5 separate regions of the Homo sapiens genome follow, and regions 2, 3, 4 and 5 are each reported to be linked to region 1. The links are microRNA targets in miRTarBase. Many come from high-throughput screens and were not tested one by one. Region 1 holds a microRNA gene; each other region holds the end of a gene's coding sequence.
The links. Region 1 holds the annotated microRNA hsa-miR-3157-3p (CUGCCCUAGUCUAGCUGAAGCU, at 2,442-2,463, opposite strand). A microRNA usually pairs through its seed, bases 2 to 8, with sites in the 3' UTR of a target mRNA and lowers its output. Matches are read on the target gene's strand: a 7mer-m8 pairs with bases 2 to 8, a 7mer-A1 pairs with bases 2 to 7 and ends in A, and an 8mer does both.

Region 1 (4,147 bases):
GAACTCAGGAGGTGGAGACTGCAATAAGCTGAGATCACACCACTGCACTCCAGCCTGGGCAACAGAGCTAGAGTCTGCCACTAAATAAAATTAGGCTGGTGTAGTCTGGAACTCGGTTTAATATCGTGTTAGTTTAGGAATCACTCAACATTCATTTTTCAATCCCTTAGATTTTAAAGTAGCAAGTACAGTCAGTTGACAGCATAAGGACCAGGCTCAGGGATCATATGGGAAGGACACCTGCTATCCTATCCTTGCCTGACTACCACTCTGTTTCCTCCCATAACACCCTCTGCCTCCCAGGTAAGCATCACCACCCTGAATTTATTAGTTCTTAAGTCCATGAAGCCTTGACATGGTATGCAATTTATATGTAAATGATTTCCCCTATTCTTAAAGTTTTGTCTACTCAAAGGGACCTGTAATTAAAAATGTAAGAGTGACTGTCTTGTATCCATTTACTTGCTAGTTTCTCCCTACTAGAACCTTGTGTTAGGCCGTTCTCGCATTGCTATAAAGAAATACTCAGGACTGGGTAATTTATAAAGAAGAGAGGTTTAACTGGCTCATGCTTCTGTAGGCTGTACAGGGAGCATGGAGCTGGCATCTGCTTGGCTTCTGGGAGGCCTCAAGAAACATGGCAGAAGGGTAAGCAGGAGCAGGAATCTCACTTGGTGGGAACAAGTGGGGGTAGGCGAAGGTGCCACACACTTTAACCAGATCTCACATGAAGTGAACTCACTATCACAAGGACAGCACCAAGCCATGAGGGATCCGCCCCCATGACAAACACCTCCCACTAGGCCCCACCTCCAACATTGGGGATTACATTTCAACATGGATTTGGGTGGGGACAAATATCTAAACTATGTCAAACATATCTTCCCTCTGTCTGCCAGGCTGGAGCGCAGTGTTGCCATTATGGCCCACTGCAGCCTCGACCTCCTGGGCTCAAAAAATTCTCCCACTTCAGCCTCCTGAGTAGCTAGGATCGTAGGCATACACCACCACATGCCTGGCTCATTTTTACAATTTTTTGTAGAGGTGGGGGTTTGCCATGTTACCCAGGCTGTCCTTTTTTTTTCTTAAGATTTTTAATTTTAGAACAGCTTAGATGTACAGAATTATTACTAAGATAGTACACAGAGTCCCCATATAGCCCACAGCCAGTCTCTCTTCTTATTAATATATTGAGATGGTACATTTGTCACAATGCACCAGTACTGATGTACTATTACTAACAGAAATCCATGCTTTATTCAAATTTCCTTAGTTTTTCCCTAATATCCTTTTTCTCTCCCAGATTCCTATGCAGGATATCACATTACCTTTAGCACTCAGGTCTTAGGCAACTCTGGGTTGTGACAGTTACTCAGACTTTGTCTGTGATGACCTCGACAGTTCTGAAAATCCGTGGTTAGGTATTTCATAGAATGAACATATGTTTCTTGAGAGCAGGGATTTTGTCTTACTCATCTTACGCCCCTGTGTGTGATAGGGATCTGATGTATGATAGCACATCATAGGCTCTTGGGATGTAGGTAACAAAAAATTGGCCAGCACGGTGGCTCACACCAGTAATGCCAGCACTTCTGGAGGCCAAGGTGGGTGGATCACTTGAGCTCAGGAGTTCAAGACCAGCCTGGCCAACATGGCAAAACCCCATCTCTACAAAAAATAAAAAAACTAGCTGGGCGTGGTGGTGTGTGCCTGTAGTCTCAGCTACTTGTGGGGCTGAAGCAGGAGGACTGCTTGAGCCCAGGAGGTCGAGGCTGCAGTGAGCCATGTTTGTGCCACTATACTCCAGCCTGGGTGACAAAGTGAGACCCTGTCTCAAAACAACAACAACAAAAATGCAGTGTAAAAGTAGGCAGTGACTAATAAACAAATGCTGCCTTGGGTTGATTTAAAAAGTAGAGTACTCTGATCATAGGAAGGCACAGTCCCATCAGATTCAGCACTGGTTAGATCGTATCTACAAAAATCTTGTGAACTGAATTTTAAGTGGAATGGTGATAAACCCAAGTTTTGCCACAAGCTGGTGATGGGTCCAGGAATCATGTTATATGAGTAACAACTGAAGGAACTGGTGGTGTTTTCACCTGGGGAAGCCTAAGGAAAGGTAAAATGCTTGTCTTCCCAGATGTGAGAAGTCCTATTACTGCAAAGGGCAGAATTAAGTCAGTGGTCCAAAGTTTCTCACATTTCAATGAATAATAAGCCAGAATGTTACAAACAGAGTAGTGCTGCTTTGAGAGTTCCTGAGTTCCTAGTTAACAGAGGCCCCTGACATAGACCAGAAATGGGATGGAAGTAATCCTTGAACTTGGGTGTAAACATCTTCCAATTCTCAAGAGCTTCTGAAGCTCTAAAGAGTTTCTGAAGAGTTTCTAAAGGTTTTATGGACCTGGGACTTGAGCTGGGTGTAGAAAGAAGGGAAAAGCTTCAGCTAGACTAGGGCAGTCATCACCCCAGTGTTGGCACAAAGCAGACTGCACTAGCCTGGCTGAAGCCCTTCCCTTCTTATATTCTCAGCTCAATTGTTGGACAGTGAGGGCAGACTCATTGAGAAGTTGTAGAGGAAATAAAGTTGAGTGAGTAGAATGAGGTTGAGTTACGGAGTTTTGAAAGCCAGAAGAGAATACAGACTTTGTGGGGTCAGAGATATCGCTGAGGATTTGTGATATGATACTGGTGATTTTAGGAAGAATGATGATTTTAGGAAGATTGGTTTTAGAAAGAATAATGATTTTAGAAAATGGTGGTTTTAGGAAGAATGATCTGACAGTATCAGGGTAGGTTAGTAAGAGAAGATGGGAGTCAGAAAGCTTTCTGCAATAATGACAAATTGAGTAAGAATGGTACATGGATATTTAATGGTACAAAGGTAAACCCTAAGAAAGAAAACAAAATTGATAGAATTGAGGGATAGAATAAAGGAAAGGAAATATACTAATTCTGTTATTACTTATAAAAGTGAATTACAGATACTGAGATACTGGCTAAATAGAAAACAGAAATACTGATTATACAATCTGTATTACAAAGTTAACTACAGGAACAAAAACACAAAGCTTTCTAATTATGAAAAGAAGGAATAAAACAAAGCAAACTTTCCATATAGTAAACTATACTTTAAAGGTATAAATAGCAAAAGTATAACAAAATAATCTGACAGAACTAAGTCCAAACATATCAAATCAATAAATGAAAACAAACTCAACTATTAAGGGAAAAAGAACTTCAGACTGAATCACAAAGTGAAACTCAAATCTATGTTGTATGAGAGACAGGTCTAAAATAAAATGATTAAGAAAGGTTGAAGATCAACGAAAAAGTAGAGATACCAGAAAAACTCAAACAAAAAGCAAGGATCAAGATCTTAATAACAGACAAGGCTGAATTTTGGCCAAAATGTATTAAACCAAATTTTAAAAAGGGCACTTTATAATGCTAAAGGTTACAGTTCATGATAAGGATGAAGTTATTAATACTTCTGGATCAAATAACTGTAGCAATATTATGCACAAACTATAAAGGTTTTACAGAGAAATAAAAGAAAAACATGGGGCAGGGTGCAGTGGCTCACGCCTGTAATCCCAGCACTTTGGGAGGCCGAGGCGGGCGAATCACGAGGTCAGGAGATCGAGACCATCCTGGCTAACACGGTGAAACTCCGTCTCTACCAAAAATACAAAAAGTTAGCCGGGTGTGGTGGCGGGCGCCTGTAGTCCCAGCTACTCCAGAGGCTGAAGCAGGAGAAAGCTCCAGGAGGCGGAGCTTGCAGTGAGCCGAGATGGCGCCACTGCACTCCAGCCTGGGTGACAGAGCAAGACTCCGTCTCAAAAAAAAAAAAAAAGATGGTAGGTAAGAAACTAATTTATTTCTCTAAGTCCATGACAGATCAGTAACATTAAAAAAAAAAAAAGCAAGGATATACAAAACCCTAACACACCATTATGGTTCATCTAATGGACACATATTAGATATTCTGAGAAGGAAATGGTGCAGACCTGGAATAACAAAGACGGCAGAGAAAACAAAGTACACCGCCAGATGTACAGAGATAGCCTGTCACGCATGCCAACAGCAAAATTCTGTCTTCTAAAGAGTCCTTAGATAACTGAAATTGCTTTCTTTGTTGACC
Region 2 (4,147 bases), not on the chromosome of region 1:
TTCCTTTTCTAGAAGTGTTCTCTCGGACTGCTGACAGGTCCACCATAAAAGATTGTTCCCGTATATGAAGTTCTGAGTGACTACCATATGCCAACCACTCTATATGGATTTTCTTATTTGACACTGTGAGGTAAGCACTTTTATTACTTCTGTTTTATAGATTACAAAACCAAGCTCAGTGAGGTTTGCTAATGTGCTCGACATACAGTCAGTAAGAGACACCTGAAGGGCCAGTAGCAATGGAGGAACAGGAGACCCTAAGAGAAAAATGCTGATGCAATTAGACTTTACCTAGTCTCCCCCACCTTCCAGACTGGAGCCCTGACACAAAGACTTTGTCAGACAAGCACACAGAGGGGAAGATTTCACTTTATTGTTACATCAGTCTCACAAATGAACCCAACACAGCCAGAAACACTGAAAGGATAAAGTGCCAATGCAGAGAGGCCTGGCAACAGGAGGAGGGAGGAATCCAGTTCGTCTCCTCCACGTCCCCAGCCTGGCAATATATTTCTATTACACAAGAGTGAGGGCAGCTGACATACCAGGCAACCCATTGTATAGACACTTTGAGCTAAGAAATAGAAAATTGTACCAGGTAGGGTCTGTGCAGGGCAAGAAAATAGAAAGAAGTCAGAAAATGTTATTTTCCCGAGTCAGGCATGGAAATATCAAATGATAAAACCAATATTTTTCAAACTCTGTTATTTGAGATAGACATCTAATAAGGAATGAGACAGGTCTGGTGCTTCATGCTACTGCCTATTTTCAGAACTATGACACCCTTTCTCCCACACCCTCAATGTAAGGTACCAGAATTTTTTAGGACTCCTGGGAAAAACTGACCTCACCTTCTTACCTTCTCAGCCCCCAAAAATTAGACCCAGTGCTCCCTCATGCACATCAAGGAGATATGAGCTAGGAGAATAATCAACTTGGAGGCATTTAAAGAAAGTGAATGAAGGCCGGGTGCGGTGGCTCACGCCTGTAATCCCAGCACTTTGGGAGGCTGAGGTGGGCGGACCACAAGGTCAGGAGATCGAGACCATCCTAGCTAACACGGTGAAACCCGTCTCTACTAAAAATACAAAAAATTAGCCAGGCGTGGTGGCAGGTGCCTGTAGTCCCAGCTACTTGGGAGGCTGAGGCAGGAGAATGGCATGAACCCGGGAGGCGGAGCTTGCAGTGAACCGAGATCGTGCCACTGCACTCCAGCCTGGGCAACAGAGTGAGACTCTGTCTAAAAAAAAAAAAAAAAAAAGAATAAACCAGCAGGAACCTTCAACATGCCTCACTGTGGCTAAGAGTCAAGGCTCAGAGTAGAACTTTCAAGTAGGGAAGTAAAGGGTGAGCTTTACTTCAACTTAGTACCAGGATAAGAGGCAGGCCAAAGTATTGCCATGAAAGGTAGGGAAGGAGCATGGAGAGGCCTCAGTGGAAAGGTACAAATCCCCGCTAGGTAAGAGAATGGGGTGTTGCTAGAGGGAGTGCTGAAGGCTGGTAACCCCGGGATCACCCCTCATGAGCTTTAGATATAGCCTCCCAACCATGGCTGTGCTTAGCTTCCTATCTAGCTTCTTTAGGTAGAGGCTGATAGGAAGGGGGCCTAGGGAATGACCCCATGACAACTGACTGCAGTATGGCTGCCTAGTTGTTCAAATGATAGTCACCAAGTTCCTAGGCTTTAGGGAGCTTCTGTGAGGCCCAAATCATTCAGAGTTCCAAAGGGCTGTTCAGTAGGGGCAGTTGCTGAACACCAGACAAGGTAGTTGGTAGTACTTGGCAAAGTTCAAAGTGGGATCCTTTAAACAAACACTCTGAGAACTACTGCTATGACACAGGGTAGACTTGGGAATATCTTAAAGGGATACCCACAGCTAGCTATTTTTCTGACTTGTCCAAGCACTTCTATGACCAAACTGAAGGGGAGATTCCATTATAGACACCTGTGTGCCTAATGTGACACCCCAGTCAAAAAGCTTCAAGAAACCTTGTATTCTCCCCAACCTTTGACAGGGGTCAGGAAATACTGGGCAGTTATAAAAAGTTGTCCTTAACATTGCCGGCTCCTGCTCTGCCTCTTTCCTTGTATCAGGACAGAACTGAACATCTCAATTCCCTGCCTGAAAATGTCATTCCCTGCCTCCCAGAAAGGTTTATCTAGATAGGCCTCTCCACCAACTGATTCTACTCAGTCTACTCCCTTCTATTCTGGCCTTGCTCTTTTTTTCCCCCCATCTTTCTCTACTCCTGGTTTCCAGCTACTTCAGTCCTTGACAGACACATAATAGGATGGGCAGAAATGCTGATCGGATCTTGGGAGTAATCAACGTCTGACAGTGACACTCTGATTTACTTAAGCCTTCAATTCCATATCAGAGAGGGATTAATATTCCTCTGTCTGTGGTTCCTCCTTTCCTCCAAGAGGTTCACAGTGAGAAACCATTTCATTCATCTTTGTACGCTCGTTTTTAGGCACCAAGATGAGGGCCTAAATGTGACAGTTTGGGGCAAGGAACTTTTACTGGGCTTGGCACACAGGAGGGAGAGCTACCCAAATCATCCTAGCATCCATCTCCAGAGAATATTCCTCCCATGCTCTGCCTTTTTTTTTTTTTTTTTAACACATTCTCACCTCTTTGCCCTCCTGTTAAAGGCTTGAATACAAATGAGGCAGCATGGGAGTCTTGGCTTGGAAATCAGGTCTGCGTTCTTGGTCCCTTCAGTCACTGACCTAATATATGAACTTAGACAATTCACTTGCCTCTCTGGACCTTTAAATGAAAGAGTTAAACTGTAATGGATAATGTCCCTGGGCTCTTTCACATAATCCATACTTGAGAAATCAATGAATCAATTTGAAGAAACTCTAATTCTAAGACATAGGTATCCTGGCACCTGTTTGAAACAGCTGAAAGGAGGTAAAGGTCAGGTTCCTGTTTATTATACATTTAGCTATAGGAAAAGAAGCACATATATCTATGGAGACACAGAACCTGGCAGCCCCTATACTTGACTAATAAAAGCAAATTCCTGGAAGAAGCAGAGAAATAGGCCACAAGTGAGACTGGCAGTGTCAAAAAAGGTCTATAAGTTAAGTGATCAAAGTAGTAAAAAACAATGGCCATAACCAGACAAGATCTCTAAGCATAGACTATAGTCTAGAGAGGTCTGAATGGGAAGGAGCCCCTGGAGCTTCTATTAGATGGAAGGACTTGGTCCACAGCAAGTCACTACGGCATTTGGTTCAAACCCAGTTTTCTCTATCTGTCAACCCGGTGTGTATGCATGCACACGTGCAGACATGCTGCAGGCTGTAGTTATGCTTCTGAAGTGCTGAAATGAGAAATAAATATCAGGAGAAATAATGCCAAATTCAAAAAAAGTTAAGCTGAAGGCAAGTAAAATTTTGCTTTCAAAGCTAGTCATTTCCCTACCACTCTGTGTGGCATCACCATTGCTCATTCTGATGTGTGCACTACAGAGTTTTGTGGGGTGATGAACTCTGGGTGTGGGGAAGGGTGGATTTGTAGTATAATTGAAAGCCAAAGACAGGATACAACCCCATGTCCTGTCTGAGAACCACCACCACCCTGCTCGCAGCTGATGACAAATGGATGTGACTTGATCTGACCCATTTGGGCACTCACTTGTCTTCATTCAAAGAGACTGTCTCCACAAAAGGGATTTCTTCCTTGTCTGTCTTCCCCATGATCAGCCGGTGCTTATCCAAGTTTATGATGCACTGAAAACAGGTAACTTGTCAGTGATACCACTATGAGTTCCTGTGTAAGAGGATACCTGCCTCAGAGAGGAAGTATCAAGGGGTAAGTGGAGTCAATCTTACCTTCAGAGATCGGAGAGTCTGTAGACCAAGGGACAAGTTTTTCTCATTGTCATCTAATAAAAACAAAAAAATGATTAAGATTTAGCCATTTCCATGCTTGCTTAGAAGTTGGCCTAATCACTATTAGGTTCCATCCATCCATCCAATAACATCCAATAAACATATATTGAGCATGTGTTATTTTTTTTTTATTTTTTTTTTATTTTTTGAGATGGAGTTTCGCTCTTGTTGCCCAGGCTGGAGTGCAGTGGCGCAATCTCGGCTCACTGCAACCTCTGCCTCTCAGGTTCAAGCAATTCT
Region 3 (4,147 bases), not on the chromosome of region 1:
TCCTTAAGCCTGTCCATCTTCATGAGTCCTCTTCCCAACGGCTCCATCTCCACGCTCTGGCACCCAGTCCTGCACTTGCCCCGTCCACCTTGCCAGGTGCACATAAGTGTGGTGCTGCCTCCCTCTTACCTTGGAGGGGACTTCAGAGAATTTCAAGCAGGCCAGGTGAGGGCCCAGACCAGCTGCCTCCCTAGGCCTGTGGAAACAGTGCCTGTGGACCTCTTTGGTTAAACCTCCTATGAGGTGTTGCCAAGAAGGTCAACCAGGAGGTAGAATGTTCCTAACTGCCAACCAGTGAGGAAATTAGCCAAAACGGAGGCACAAAGTCATACCTCCAACGACACTCACGCTCACCCGGCATTTGTTGGTGCGTGACTGGGAGGACTTGGGATGGAAAGCTAGGCTATCCCCATTTCCATCCATCTTTCATTGGGAAGGGGTTTTGGGGGGCAGGCTCTGGAACGTGTCGTGGACGTCACTGGCCTGGGAGAGTTCACTGCCCTGGCTTCGTGAGTGGACTCAGGATTCCTTTCACGTCCACTTTCCACCTATGAAGTTGAGGAAATGGCAGTGGAGGGAGACGAACAAGATGATCCCCAAGGCCCTTCCAGGCTGGACGCTGTGGGGACTCTATCCAGGTCATAAAGGGCAGGTAGTTGCCCCAGCCAGGGTCAGCTCAGGTGAGGACAGGGGTTTGGCCGAGGTGACAGGATACCCAAGAAAGTAGAATCAGGCCAGAATCAGACTCGGGGCTTTGTGCAGTCACAGATAATCAATGAGGCGGGAAGAACCAGGCTTGGTGGGGGAAGGACGCCAGGAGAGAGGGAAGGGCCGGGAATCTCCGCCGCCTCTGACTCAGACTCGCCAGCAGGTGGCACTGTAGGACAAGGAGCTGAGGGTCTCTCCAGTGAGCACTGCTTCCGGCCTGGGCTGGGAGCACCCGGAGGACTCCAGAGAGCACCCAGAGTGATGCTTCCAGGGCATCTGCCACAGCCCTAGCGGGTCCCACAGCAAATGGGGCAAGGAGTGATTGGAGAAACAAAAGAGATTTCCTAGCTGAGCCTGTCCTGCCTGCCTCGGCCCAGGTCCTGGGGAAAAGCAGGCCTGGGAGGGCATCTCTGTTGCCACAGTGGGGCCAATTTTGGGTTCTTCAGGAAACTCTTCTGCCTCCTGATGTGCCCCCTCCCCTTTCCGTAGGGGATTTCAGAGCGAAAGAGTGGGCTCGATTCAAAATATCCTTCAGCTTCTGGATGTATCTGGATGAAAGCCCTCCGTCCTCGTGAGCGTCCTGGCCTGCCCAGTCCCTCAGTCACTCACAGGGCTCTGGTTGATGCCTCTGCAGTGTGAGTCAGTGATAAGAAAAAAATAATAATTCATATTAATCTATTGCTTAAAAGTGCCAGTTGCTGTACTAATCATGTCATGCACATTCTTTAATGTAATGGTCACCTGATTTAGCTTGAAGACACAGTCTGTGATGCGTGGGGTCCTGTCTCTGAGATGAGGCATAGAGAGGATAGGACTGTTGCTCAAGATCACACAGAAATTGCTGGGCAGAGCTGTGCTTCGCACTCTTTTGCGGTATGGCGTGCTACCGCCTGCTCAGGGCCAGCCCACTCAGACTCTGCCTGCTTGGGAGATTGGAGGGATGAAGGAAAATGAGTATTGAAGACTTTTGGCTTCCACAGCTGGGTAGATGGTGGTCTTACTTATGAGATGGGAAAGACGGAGGGAGAAGTAAGTTTGGCAGAAAAAAAGTCAAGTGTCTGCCTTGGCTATGGTGGTTAACAATGAATGCCAGACACCCAAGGGGAGATGCTGAGTGGGCAGTTGGATAAATGAGTCTGGGGGCTGGGCGTGGTGGCTCATGCCTGTTATTCAAGCACTTTGGGAGGCTGAGGCGGGTGGATCACCTGAAGTCAGGAGTTTGAGACCAGCCTGCCCAACACGGTGAAACCCCATCTCTACTAAAAATACAAAAATTAGCTGGGCATGGTGGCATGCGCCTGTAATCCCAGCACTTCGGGAGGCTGAGGTGGGTGGATCACAAGGTCAGGAGATCGAGACCATCCTGGCTAACATGGTGAAACCCCGTCTCTGCTAAAAATATTTTTTAAAAATTAGCCGGGCGTTGTGGCGGGCACCTGTAGTCCCAGCTACTCAGGAGGCTGAGGCAGGAGAATGGTGTGAACCCAGGAGGTGGAGCTTGCAGTGAGCCGAGATTGCACCACTGCACTCCAGCCTGGGCGGCAGAGCAAGACTCTGTTTAAAAAAAAAAAAAAAAAGAAAGAAATCCTTGGCTGGGCGCGGTGGCTCATGCCTGTAATCCCAGCACTTTGGGAAGCCGAGGGGGGCAGATCATGAGGTCAAGAGATCAAGACCATCCTGGCCAACATGGTGAAACCCCATCTCTACTAAAAATACAAAAATTAGCTGGGTGTGGTGGTGCGCACCTGTAGTCCCAGCAACTCGGGAGGCTGAGGCAGGAGAATCGCTTGAACCCAGGAGGCAGAGGTTGCAGTGAGTTGAGATTGCGCCCCTGCACTCCAGCCTGGCAACAGAGTGAGACTCTGTCTCAAAAACAAACAAGCAAACAAACAAAAAAAACCCTTAGATTAGAAATGATATTTAAAACTTGAAAATTTGCCTCCCTCAAAAAAGGTGTGGCTGGAATGTTTTGGAGGTTAGCTTACCTTGAGAGGTCTCTATGTGGCAGCACCCTCATTTGATGTCTCTAAGGCTGATTTGCTCACTGGTTTTCAAATGGAGACACAAAAGGAGGATGACAAATAGCATTTTTAATTTAAAATAGATCAGCATAAAATTTTCAGAGAGAATCCAAAGAACACACGGAAAGACCGAGTGAGGAAGTGTCCAGGAATTCGGCTGAGAAGCTCAGCAGCCTGTGTTCAGCAGTCTACCCGCTGGCCTGGAAGGCTTTTTCCAGAGTGGGTTGACCTTCCAAAGTCAGTCCTGGGGGAGGAGTCCAACTTGGCCTGCTTGATTGACGGGGCCCCAGCACTGAGGAGGCGGGGGCAGGCTCGAGTAATGAACCATTGGCTCTTCCTGCTGTCAGAGGTCCCAGAGAGATAATACTGCCGTGATGAGACATCAGGCATCCCAAAAAGAGCAATTAAAACTCATGTTTGGAATAGAAAATGAGGGCTTTCAAAGCACGTCACTGTCATGCTTTCTGCAGCAAATACACAGGTCGTTCTTAACACTTAATGGGCAGAGCCATGGAATCGACCCTTAGCCTGGAGTCTAAAAAATTGTCTTGTAATTTGGGCTTGTCTTGGCAGGTGAGGGCTTGAGAAGAGGCAGGGTGAGCCTGCCCTAGGAGGAGAAGGAGGAGGAGAGGAGGAGGCTCCAGGTAGAGGGTCACTGGGGCTAAGTGGAGACTAATGTTGGCTAACCTAAAAGGGGGGACTTTTACCAAAAACAATTAGCCTAAGACTTGAATCTGAGCTCCTTGAAGCAGAACCTGCATAAAAATGGGGGAATGTCAGGGTTGGGGCAAGATAGGGAGTCCTTCTGGGAATTTTCCACTATGTCAAGATGGCTTCTTGTGGCAGGGGAGGGAGGGGCTAGGGGTGGGTGTAGTTGCCCATCCGCAGGGTCCCCTGGCGCACGGCACACTCTTCCCGGTGGGCTTTTAATGCTCTCTGGCGATCGGCCTCCGTGGGGAACGTATCAAGGTGGCGGCCCACCTGTGGATAGAAGGGAAGAGTGGGTGGGTGAGGGGAGACTTCAGTGTAGCTCATTCCAGTTGCTCCCCTCGCCTGCCCCCTGCTTCAATCTTAGAATAATGATAAAAATAGCTGTAAGAGGGAGGAAGTCACAGCAAGTGCTGTGAGCCTCCTGGTGCTGAGCCACGAGGCAGAGAGCAGGGGCTACCTGGGGGAACTGTTCGTCCTTCTGTCCAGCTCCTTGCTGGGGAAGATACAGGCAGAACAAAAATCACCAGGCCATGACCAGACGACCACGCAATGGGACCTAGTAGCCAGTGTCCTTCATGCACTACTTTTCCACCATTAAAAACCCCAAACAAGCCACCCTCTCCAAGGGGGACCTCCTGACCCTGTCTGCACTCCCTTGCTGGGAATTAGATCACTTCCCTCCTCTCTGGTGGCAGCCACCACAGGAG
Region 4 (4,000 bases), not on the chromosome of region 1:
GGAGATTGGAGTTGTTGAGTAACAGAACTGGCCGTGTTTTGCCAGAGATGCAGTCATGTTCTCCCCACAGCTGCTTCTCATATCGGCGGGGATCAAAGCTGAGGGTGTCATCTCAGACCACAGCTGGAGGCATTTCTGGGAAGGGTGGGCAGATCTGAGGCTGAGTGTCTGGGTGAACTGAAGCTGAGCCCAGCCCCTTCCTCTCTGCTCCCCAGCATGACGGCCTGGTGTGGCCCTCAGAGCCCTCACGCGTGTCCCGGGCAGTGCCTGAGGTCCGGCTGGGTAGTGTGTCACTGATCCCCCTTCGAGGTAGTGAAAATGAAATGCGCCGGAGTGTGGCTGCCTTCACCGCGGACCCTCTGTCTGTGAGTGGCTCTCCATGCCTTTGGGCAGGGGGCTGGGGGCCTGGCTGGGTGCCTGCCTTCTACTCCACAGTAGATGATTGCCCTGATTGCCCTCCCCGATTGCCCTCCGGCCCCCTCCCTCCAGCCTTGGTGGGGGCCCTCATAGGCCTCTTTGGTTCACACCATTCAAAGGAGCCCCTTCTGCCTGGCCCTGGAAGCTGGGAGTCCCCTCTGCCTGGCCCTGGGAGCTGGGAGCCTGGCTGATTGGAGTGCTCCCCGGCTGGCAGTGGAGAGTGGCTGCAGCAGCTGCAGCAGCTTCAGCGGGGCGCCAGCCCCTCTGGGCCTTCACAAAATACCTGTGGGTCTCTTGCCTTCCTGCAGCTTCTGCGCAACGTCTGAGCACAGGAGCCCATCCTTGGCTCTAGGATTCCGCCGCTGGAAGCCTTCTGTTCAGACACCCCTTATGCTCCAAGGCCTGATGTGAGCCAGCGGGGGGTGCATGGGAAACTGCACCCCACAACCCACATCCTCCATCCTGACTGCAGCATGGGGTTCCCCGGCAGGGGTGGGAGGCAGCAGGGGTCAGCCTGGGCAGGAACCTCTCCCAACTCTGTCCAGGTGTTCAGACCTCTTGGCCCAACCTGCTCACCCCACCGGGTTCACTGTCCTTGTGGGGCTGGAGAGATGGGCATAAGTCAGGAACTTGGGAGGACCACCACCCTTTCAGAGGCGTGAGGCCCTGGGGCCCTGCCGGAAGGGAGCCCCCTGCTCCTCCCAACAAACTCCAGAACAGCAGAAAGCGGGTGCTGTAGAGGAGCACTCAGCTCACGGGGAGGGAGCTCTTGGCTGAGCTTCTACAGGGCTGAGAGCTGCGCTTTGGGGACTTCAGCCTTCCTTCCAGTCTGGGCTGAGTGGGGGGTCCAGACTACCTGATGCCCCTTCCCCAATTTGGGGACTTTTTGATAATATAAATATATCTGTATATTTTACCCTATGGTGCTGAGGCCTGTGATTGGCTAAGGGGATTGGGCGTCCTGGGGTAGGAGGGGACAGGAGGTCGGGAAGCCCAGGGGTGAGTGCCTAGTGCCTGAAGCTGAGAACCTAGGCCTTGCTTTCTCCAGGCCCTGAGCTATTCAGACGACCCCCTTCCCCAAGCAGAGCCCTGGCTTGACTCCATGCCTTCCCCATTGTACTATCCTGCAGCCAGGCTGGGAATGCCGGTCCTTTCCTGGCCAGCACTGACCCTGGCTGGACACAAGCCCCTGTCCTGCTGCAGTCCGAGTCTGAGTCCCAGCTGGGGCCTGGGTGTGGTGTGTCAGTGACTCAGGCCTGGCAGCCCTGCAGCAGCCCCCTGCTGGAGACACAAGGTCAGAGCCACAGGAGCCTGAGGAAATTGAGAAGAAGCACCTTTGGGTCACCTGTGGCCCCAGTGCCTACCCCTCCAGAGGTGGGGCCTGCCATGCACCAGGGGGCTGCCCTCACTGGGCACTGCCTGGCCATCTCCACTAAGAAGATGAGGCCCTGGCCTGCAGAGGAAATAATGAGTTGCTCAGAGATGGGTTTGGGACTCCCTGGGGAGGTGCCAGACACCACATTCCCGCCTCTGCCTAGAGCCTCATTACCACCCGCTCTTCGGGGGCTCAGTGGGCGGACAGGCTGACCTCCATCCTTAGCCTCAGCCAGTGGGGCTGGGCAGAGTGGGTGGGGATGGGCCATGTGACCTCCGACTCAGGCATCCAGCTCAGTGGGGAGCCTGGGTCCAGCGGAAGACTTGGGGAGCTGGACTCCAGGTTCCCTCTCGCTGTCTCAGGAAGGGGAGGTATATGGCAGGAGACTGGAACCGGTTCCCTGAGTCCTACTGACCTATTTCACAGGCTGGGGCTAAGCCCCTTGAGTCTCCCACCTCCTGTGGGTCGCTCTGGCCAGATCCACAGGTCGAATGTCTGACCCTTCTGCCTCCAGCCAGGACAGGTTGGACCCCCTTATCCAAGTGCTGAGGGGCTGGAATCCGCTCCTGGATCTGACCTTGCACTGCCCAGCCAGCCCTGAGGCCCACCTGAGTGGGTGAGACTGGAGGCGCCCCCTGCTCTGCTAAGGCCACTGCCCCAGCTCAGCGTGCTGGCTGCAGTCCTGCACTAGGCCACAAGGCGGCAGCCATGGACCACTCATCATTGCTGGAATCAAAGCAGGGTCTGGAGGATGCCTGAGTGGTGGTCCTGGCCCAGACCTTTCTCTGCTGGGGTGTGAAGCGGGACCCAGTTCTGCCTTTGGCCTGCAGGCTGGTGACATTCTGGAAGGCAGCACCATACAGGAATGTGCATTGGAGTCCTGGGCTCTGGGAACCAGGAAGAGGAGGGAACAGCCTTCTACCAAGTACCTGCTGTGAATCGGCCCCTGTGCCCCCTGCACTGTCTGCTCTTGGCAAGGGGGAGCTAGGCCCAGAGAAGGGAGGCAACTTTCCCAAGGTCACACCATGCTCGTGAAGCAGGCCTGAGGTCCATTTCCCCTGCCCTACTTTGGTGGGGTCTCCCTCTTTGACTCCCCTCCTGATTCCAACCCTTTTCTCCTCTTAGAAATGGCCTGAGGCAGGGGGTCTGAACTGTCAGGAGTTAGTGATGGCTTAAAGTGATTTCCCTCTGGTAAGGGGTAGGGGTGACATCCAAACAGGAGCCTCAGGGCCTCAGCCGGAATGAAATATGCCTGTGACAACAGTGTTGGATGGGTTAGGGGCAGGAGGCTCTGCTGGTCCTTGTCGCAAGGATTCCTAAAAATGGGGCCTGTTGGGACCCTGGATGGTTTGCTCATTCACATATTATTTGAAGTTGGGTTGCCATGGATGAGTTGAAGACCCCAGACCTGGACCTGCAGAGGGGCCAGGAGCAGCTCTTGGAAAGGGAGGGGCTTCCTGGACAAGGAAGTGCTCCTGAGCCAGCTTTGAAGACCGGAGGCCTTGCCAGGTGTGGTTGGGGTAGAGGTTGAAATACTGAAATATTGGGGGAGGAGGACAGGGCTTCAAGGACCAACCCAAATCCAGGCCTAGCCCCTGGGGAATACGGGGAGCCCTGGGAAAGAAGGCCGAGGCACGTCAGAGCCTGGATGGTGAGGGCACTGCAGGTGAAGGGGAGGCTGGGGGGCAGAGGGGAGAGGGGCAGGGAGGTGGGGTAGGATGTCTGCCTCTCTCCTGCCTCCTTCCAGCACAACCTTCCTACCCTGCAGAGTTCTGAGGAGTCCTGGGGCTTCTGGAGAAGGAAATCAGTGGGACAGGGAAGGGCAAGAGCTGGGGCTTCTTTCCTGGCCTCATGCTCTGGTGGCCTCCAAGCCACCTGCCCACAGCCCGCTGTCTTGGAAAGCACGCGTGTGGGTGCCAGTGCTCCTGTTTACAAGCTGTGTGACTTTGCCTGAGTTACTTAGGTCTCTGATCCTCAATGTTGTCATCTGTACTTTGCGGGTATTAATAGTAGCTACCTCCTAGTGGTTTGGGCAATTAAATGAGCTAGTAAGTGTGAAGTGCCTAGCATTGCCCCTTGCTAATCCCCTTCCCACTGCACTGTCTGCAGTTTCTGAGAAGGTATCATGGCATATTCTAGTCCCAATATATTTGCACTCAACAAGCACTTATTGAACACCAACTGTATGCAGAGCGTTACTGAACACTG
Region 5 (4,147 bases), not on the chromosome of region 1:
AAAAATTTAAGTTCTTAATTTTCCAACAATATTTCTATAGCCTGTGAAAATAATACTTCCCATTTCGGGGAGGCAAATGAAATGCATCTGAACCTTGATTTTCACATAAATAATATACACTGCCATCTGCAAGCAGATGAAAACAAAACACTGTAAGCCCCATATAATGTTTGATTGGCTGATTGGCCTATGACCTAAGCGATTTTTAAAAGAATTTTGGAAGTCTTCATTGCGATTTTTTTCTTATGACTGTAACTGTATTTATTGACTAGATGATTTTATCTTCTTAGGTGGCTTCTTCTCAACCTGTATCTTCTGAGATGTATAGGGATCCATTTGGAAATCCTTTTGCCTAAATTCTGTAAGTAGAAGATCCTAATAAGCCTGTCTCAGGGGTTTTTGTGAGAAAGGGTGACATGGAATAAAGAGTGAAATTTTAATTTTAGAATTGGGAAGAGGGTAAATATCTATAATTTAGGAGTAATCGACAGGAAAATCTCTACTGAGATCATTCAATAATGACTAGGCTGGGCACTTAAGAATAGAATTCCTAAACACATCAAAAAATAGTAATATACCCTTGGGGATGTGGATTTTTATCTTATTCCATGTTCTTGGTTTTTCAGTTCTGTGTGGGAAGTAAAACTCAAAACAACACATCACAGGTTTCTAACCTTTTTACTTTCATATTGAAGTGGTTGCAAAACAACCTAGTAATAATTTGGTTTCCTATAAAGGGTTCAGATTCCATTGACTTTCTGAAGCCACCAAGTCAGCAAAACAGATTATGATCATTACTTCTCTACCATTTAACTGTGAGCAATCTCAAAGTTAGTCTGAAAGAGTCTGATGGTATTAAATCTGAAAGTTTTAACAACTATTAAAGATCTCCTTCATAGGCAGTAGGAGCTCAAAATGAGTCTGAAGGTTGATTCTTCTGTCTCATGAACTTTATCTTAGATAAGTGATTAGGTAGAATCACCCTCAGCTGAAATCCTGGGAGGGCTCAGTGTAACTCTTTCTCTACAGAAGGTGACAGCAACTTTATTCTGATCTCAAAAGACTGAATTTAGTAGGGAAAGGAACGCTCTCCCCATTTTAGAGCAGGTAGGCCAGCTGGTAGGGGTAGAACAATAGAAATAATGAAAAACAACAACAACAACAACAAAAACCAAGCCCATTTTTTTTCCAATCTTGTCTCATCCAAACAGGACTACTAAACTGTGATTTGGCTCATCTAGAATGTAATTATTTTTAATAGATAGATATCTTAAACGTGGCGAAAACAATAAGATTGAGCTTATAGGCATCTGGATCATTTTCCCTCAACTCCAGTTCTACAATGACTGTGTTTCCTGTAGTACCTTTCCATAAACTGCTTCAGAGAACTGGGTAAATCATTAAAAATGCAAATTCCTGGGTCCTACTGCAGCCCTAAGGAATTTCTCTTTGGTGCCAAGGAAATGCTTCCTTTTAACAAGAGTGCAGGTGATTCTAAAGGTAATAAAGCAGTAAGTAGATATTTAAGAGCTAGAAGTCTTACCAGAGATCATTCTCACCTTCCATTCAAGGGGAGATATACCCAAACCAATAGAAGGAGTAAACTACACTCAGAGTCAAGATGGATTGTATGGACTAAATTGAATGAACTAGACTTCTCTTTGGAGGTCCTTCCTTCTTTAGGTCATGAAGGAAGGATAGTTTAGGTCAACCTGCTACATCAATAGATTGGGTAAGGGGAACTCTCATGGGATAAAATAACTAACATTGTTGAGCACTTGCGCTAAGCATTTTATTAGATGCTCTACATTTATCATCTTCATCAATCCTCACATCAGCCCTAGGAGATACTATTACTGACATCTTTAATAATGACTTGATATTTAATACATTGATATTCAGTTCAAAAATTCTAACCACAAGTTTCTTTCTTCTCCATACCTCTCTAGGAACTTGGTCTGCAGACCATCCAGAGGAATAAAAAGGTTGGCCTTAGTAGTCAAAAACAAAGCTGATAGCCAGACACGTTCTGATTTCTGCCCTTGTTCCAGCTTTGACGTATTATCTGTTGCCTTATTTCTCATTGCCTCTTCTACTTGTAAAATGCTTTTCACTTTCTGTCTAGGTTAAAGCTAAACTGAATCTATGGCTTTAAATAAATTAAGATCCTAAACTCTCTAGCTTAAGTGTAAATGAAGTACAGTAGTTTCCCTACTGAACCCTGCCTCTTGTGTCCCTGGAACCTTCTAGAACACCTGCCTTCTACCCTCTGGTTGGGAGATGCAGCCACCACATCCCTTCATATCATACTGTTTTGAATAAATTTTCAAATCCTTATTGTTCAGAGTTGTTTGGGGGTTCTGTTTCAGAGCATAAAACCTAAAGGTTATAGTAGAACAAGGCACCTTCTTAAAAGAAATCTTGCTTCAGACCATCAGTTACAGAGAATTTCTAAAGTAAAATTGAAGCAACTACAACTTCTCCTTAGACACTTTGGAATCTAACCACTTAAGGACCTTTTTAAAGAGATAGCTTCTCTTCTTTCTGAAGATCAATTTCTCCCAAGGCCAAGATTGTCCTTTTCTCCCATTTCTTGCTAGCTATTGCAAATGAGGGAAGAACATTATTCATCTCTCCTCCCCTTTTTTTTCTGATTCTTTTTTCAGTCAGTTTTGCTCCTGGGTTCAAGTAGTATTACCACCCTTTCACAAGCAACAGACTCTCACAGGGCAAAAAAAAAAAAAAATCTAATGATTCACAGACAGATCTGGAGCCTCTCTTCATTCTCAGTAATTGCTAGTCCCAAGAACTAGAATTGCAAATGGGCACAACCTATATCCTTCCTGTGGAAGAGGAGGCCACTCTCTTGAGCTGAAGTTCCAGAAGAGCAGTTAATGTTCAAGAGAAATTGAACTCAACTCAGCAACAAAGGACTCTATTTTGAAGAGCAACATATCACAAAGCTAAATGTGATTGTGCCAAACACATTAGGTGCTTATTTGGGGTCATGCTAGGCCTTTATCAAGTAACTGGAAAACTTTTCTTGCAGCCACAATCTCAATGTCGTTAGTAGGAAGATAAGAGGGGAGAAAAAGCTGTAGAACAAATGTTTGGGGTTACCATTGAAAATCTAATGTCTGCAATATTTTTCTCCTCACAACTTGGAAACGTTCCCAGTTCATTTTCAGTCCTGTTGTGAGCACAGTTCTGAAGGGTTTATTATTGTCAAAATAAGTTTTGTTTTGTTTTGTTTATGTTGGGTTTTTAATGTTGTCTCTTGACCCTTAATGCTCAGGTTCTTGTGGGAGTTAATCAGCCACATCCAATGTTACCTTGAGGGGGAAGAAGAGGGTGATGCTCAGAAGCTAAACAAGACAGGGGCCACATGACCCTCTATTGATTAGCCCCAAGTAGAAAGTCCTGTGGTTTTATGTTTAATGGTAATAGTTGATCATATATGGCATAATTTTCTATCAGCTTCCTACTCAGTCACTATAAACACAGACTTGAAATAGTACTTTAAATGTCCAAATACCTAAATGTGCTAAACTGGAGGTAACTATTTCTAGGTAGTTGAATTTTTGAAAGTCATGATCAGCCACACAACTGTTTTGTACATACTTATTTTCTCATGCACTTTTCTGTATGCAAATAAAGCTATAAATTTACTCATTTCAATAAACTGGAGTGGCAGAATATCATGTGGTACCATCGGTTTATTCTACCTGCTTTGAGTTGACATTAGAGGCAAGCTATAAAACATACCAGTCTGAAGTGGAGAAAATGTTAGCTATAATAGATTCTGGATTGTCACAACAGTGAAGAGAAAGTGGAAATCCATGAAATAGGACCGTGAGTAAATTACCGTCTGATCTATTTCACACCTTCTTCTGTCTCAAACCCACACACACTCCCTTTCCGGGAGTGTAAGGAAGACTAGTAGATAAGACCTGTACCAGAACAACCTCAGCTGACATCCACTATAAAATCACTCATTAGTGCACTATTGGTTCATGCCTTTTACCCTTGGCTGCCTCTTGTTTTTTACTCAGTCATATTTGACCTCACCAAGACACGACTGTGTGGACTGCTCTAGGCTGGCACAGGCCCCTCTGGAGAGCTGTTGCATGAGGTGAGTGGGCTGATG

Region 2: miRTarBase lists NRIP3 as a target of hsa-miR-3157-3p. Seed matches in the 3' UTR shown: 7mer-A1 at 2,640-2,646.
Region 3: miRTarBase lists CFAP77 as a target of hsa-miR-3157-3p. Seed matches in the 3' UTR shown: 7mer-m8 at 3,333-3,339.
Region 4: the mRNA of ARAP1 is a reported target of hsa-miR-3157-3p. The part of its 3' UTR that is shown has no 7-base or 8-base seed match.
Region 5: miRTarBase lists DAB2 as a target of hsa-miR-3157-3p. Seed matches in the 3' UTR shown: 7mer-A1 at 2,727-2,733.

The regions. Positions count from the first base shown.
Region 1 is chr10:96,061,880-96,066,026 of GRCh38, forward strand. It overlaps MIR3157 (microRNA 3157), which reads right to left and starts at 2,520; the gene lies at 2,436-2,520. The region is part of intron 2 of ENTPD1-AS1 (ENTPD1 antisense RNA 1); the gene reads right to left.
Region 2 is chr11:8,980,225-8,984,371 of GRCh38, forward strand. NRIP3 (nuclear receptor interacting protein 3) reads right to left here. Exons shown (of 7, transcript NM_020645.3): 5 at 3,848-3,900; 6 at 3,651-3,745; 7 at 352-3,336. The coding sequence ends at 3,321. Among named protein-coding and RNA genes, the nearest start is that of TMEM9B-AS1, 18 kb to the left of the region's middle.
Region 3 is chr9:132,571,951-132,576,097 of GRCh38, reverse strand. CFAP77 (cilia and flagella associated protein 77) reads right to left here. Exons shown (of 6, transcript NM_001282957.2): 6 at 2,779-3,710. The coding sequence ends at 3,588. Among named protein-coding and RNA genes, the nearest start is that of BARHL1, 8.6 kb to the left of the region's middle. RefSeq lists a silencer at 789-858.
Region 4 is chr11:72,682,407-72,686,406 of GRCh38, reverse strand. It overlaps ARAP1 (ArfGAP with RhoGAP domain, ankyrin repeat and PH domain 1), which reads left to right. Exons shown (of 35, transcript NM_001040118.3): 34 at 216-365; 35 at 726-1,338. The coding sequence ends at 743. Among named protein-coding and RNA genes, the nearest start is that of PDE2A, 10 kb to the right of the region's middle. RefSeq lists an enhancer at 1,114-1,673.
Region 5 is chr5:39,371,228-39,375,374 of GRCh38, reverse strand. DAB2 (DAB adaptor protein 2) reads left to right here. Exons shown (of 15, transcript NM_001343.4): 14 at 291-361; 15 at 1,950-3,698. The coding sequence ends at 356. Among named protein-coding and RNA genes, the nearest start is that of C9, 8.8 kb to the right of the region's middle.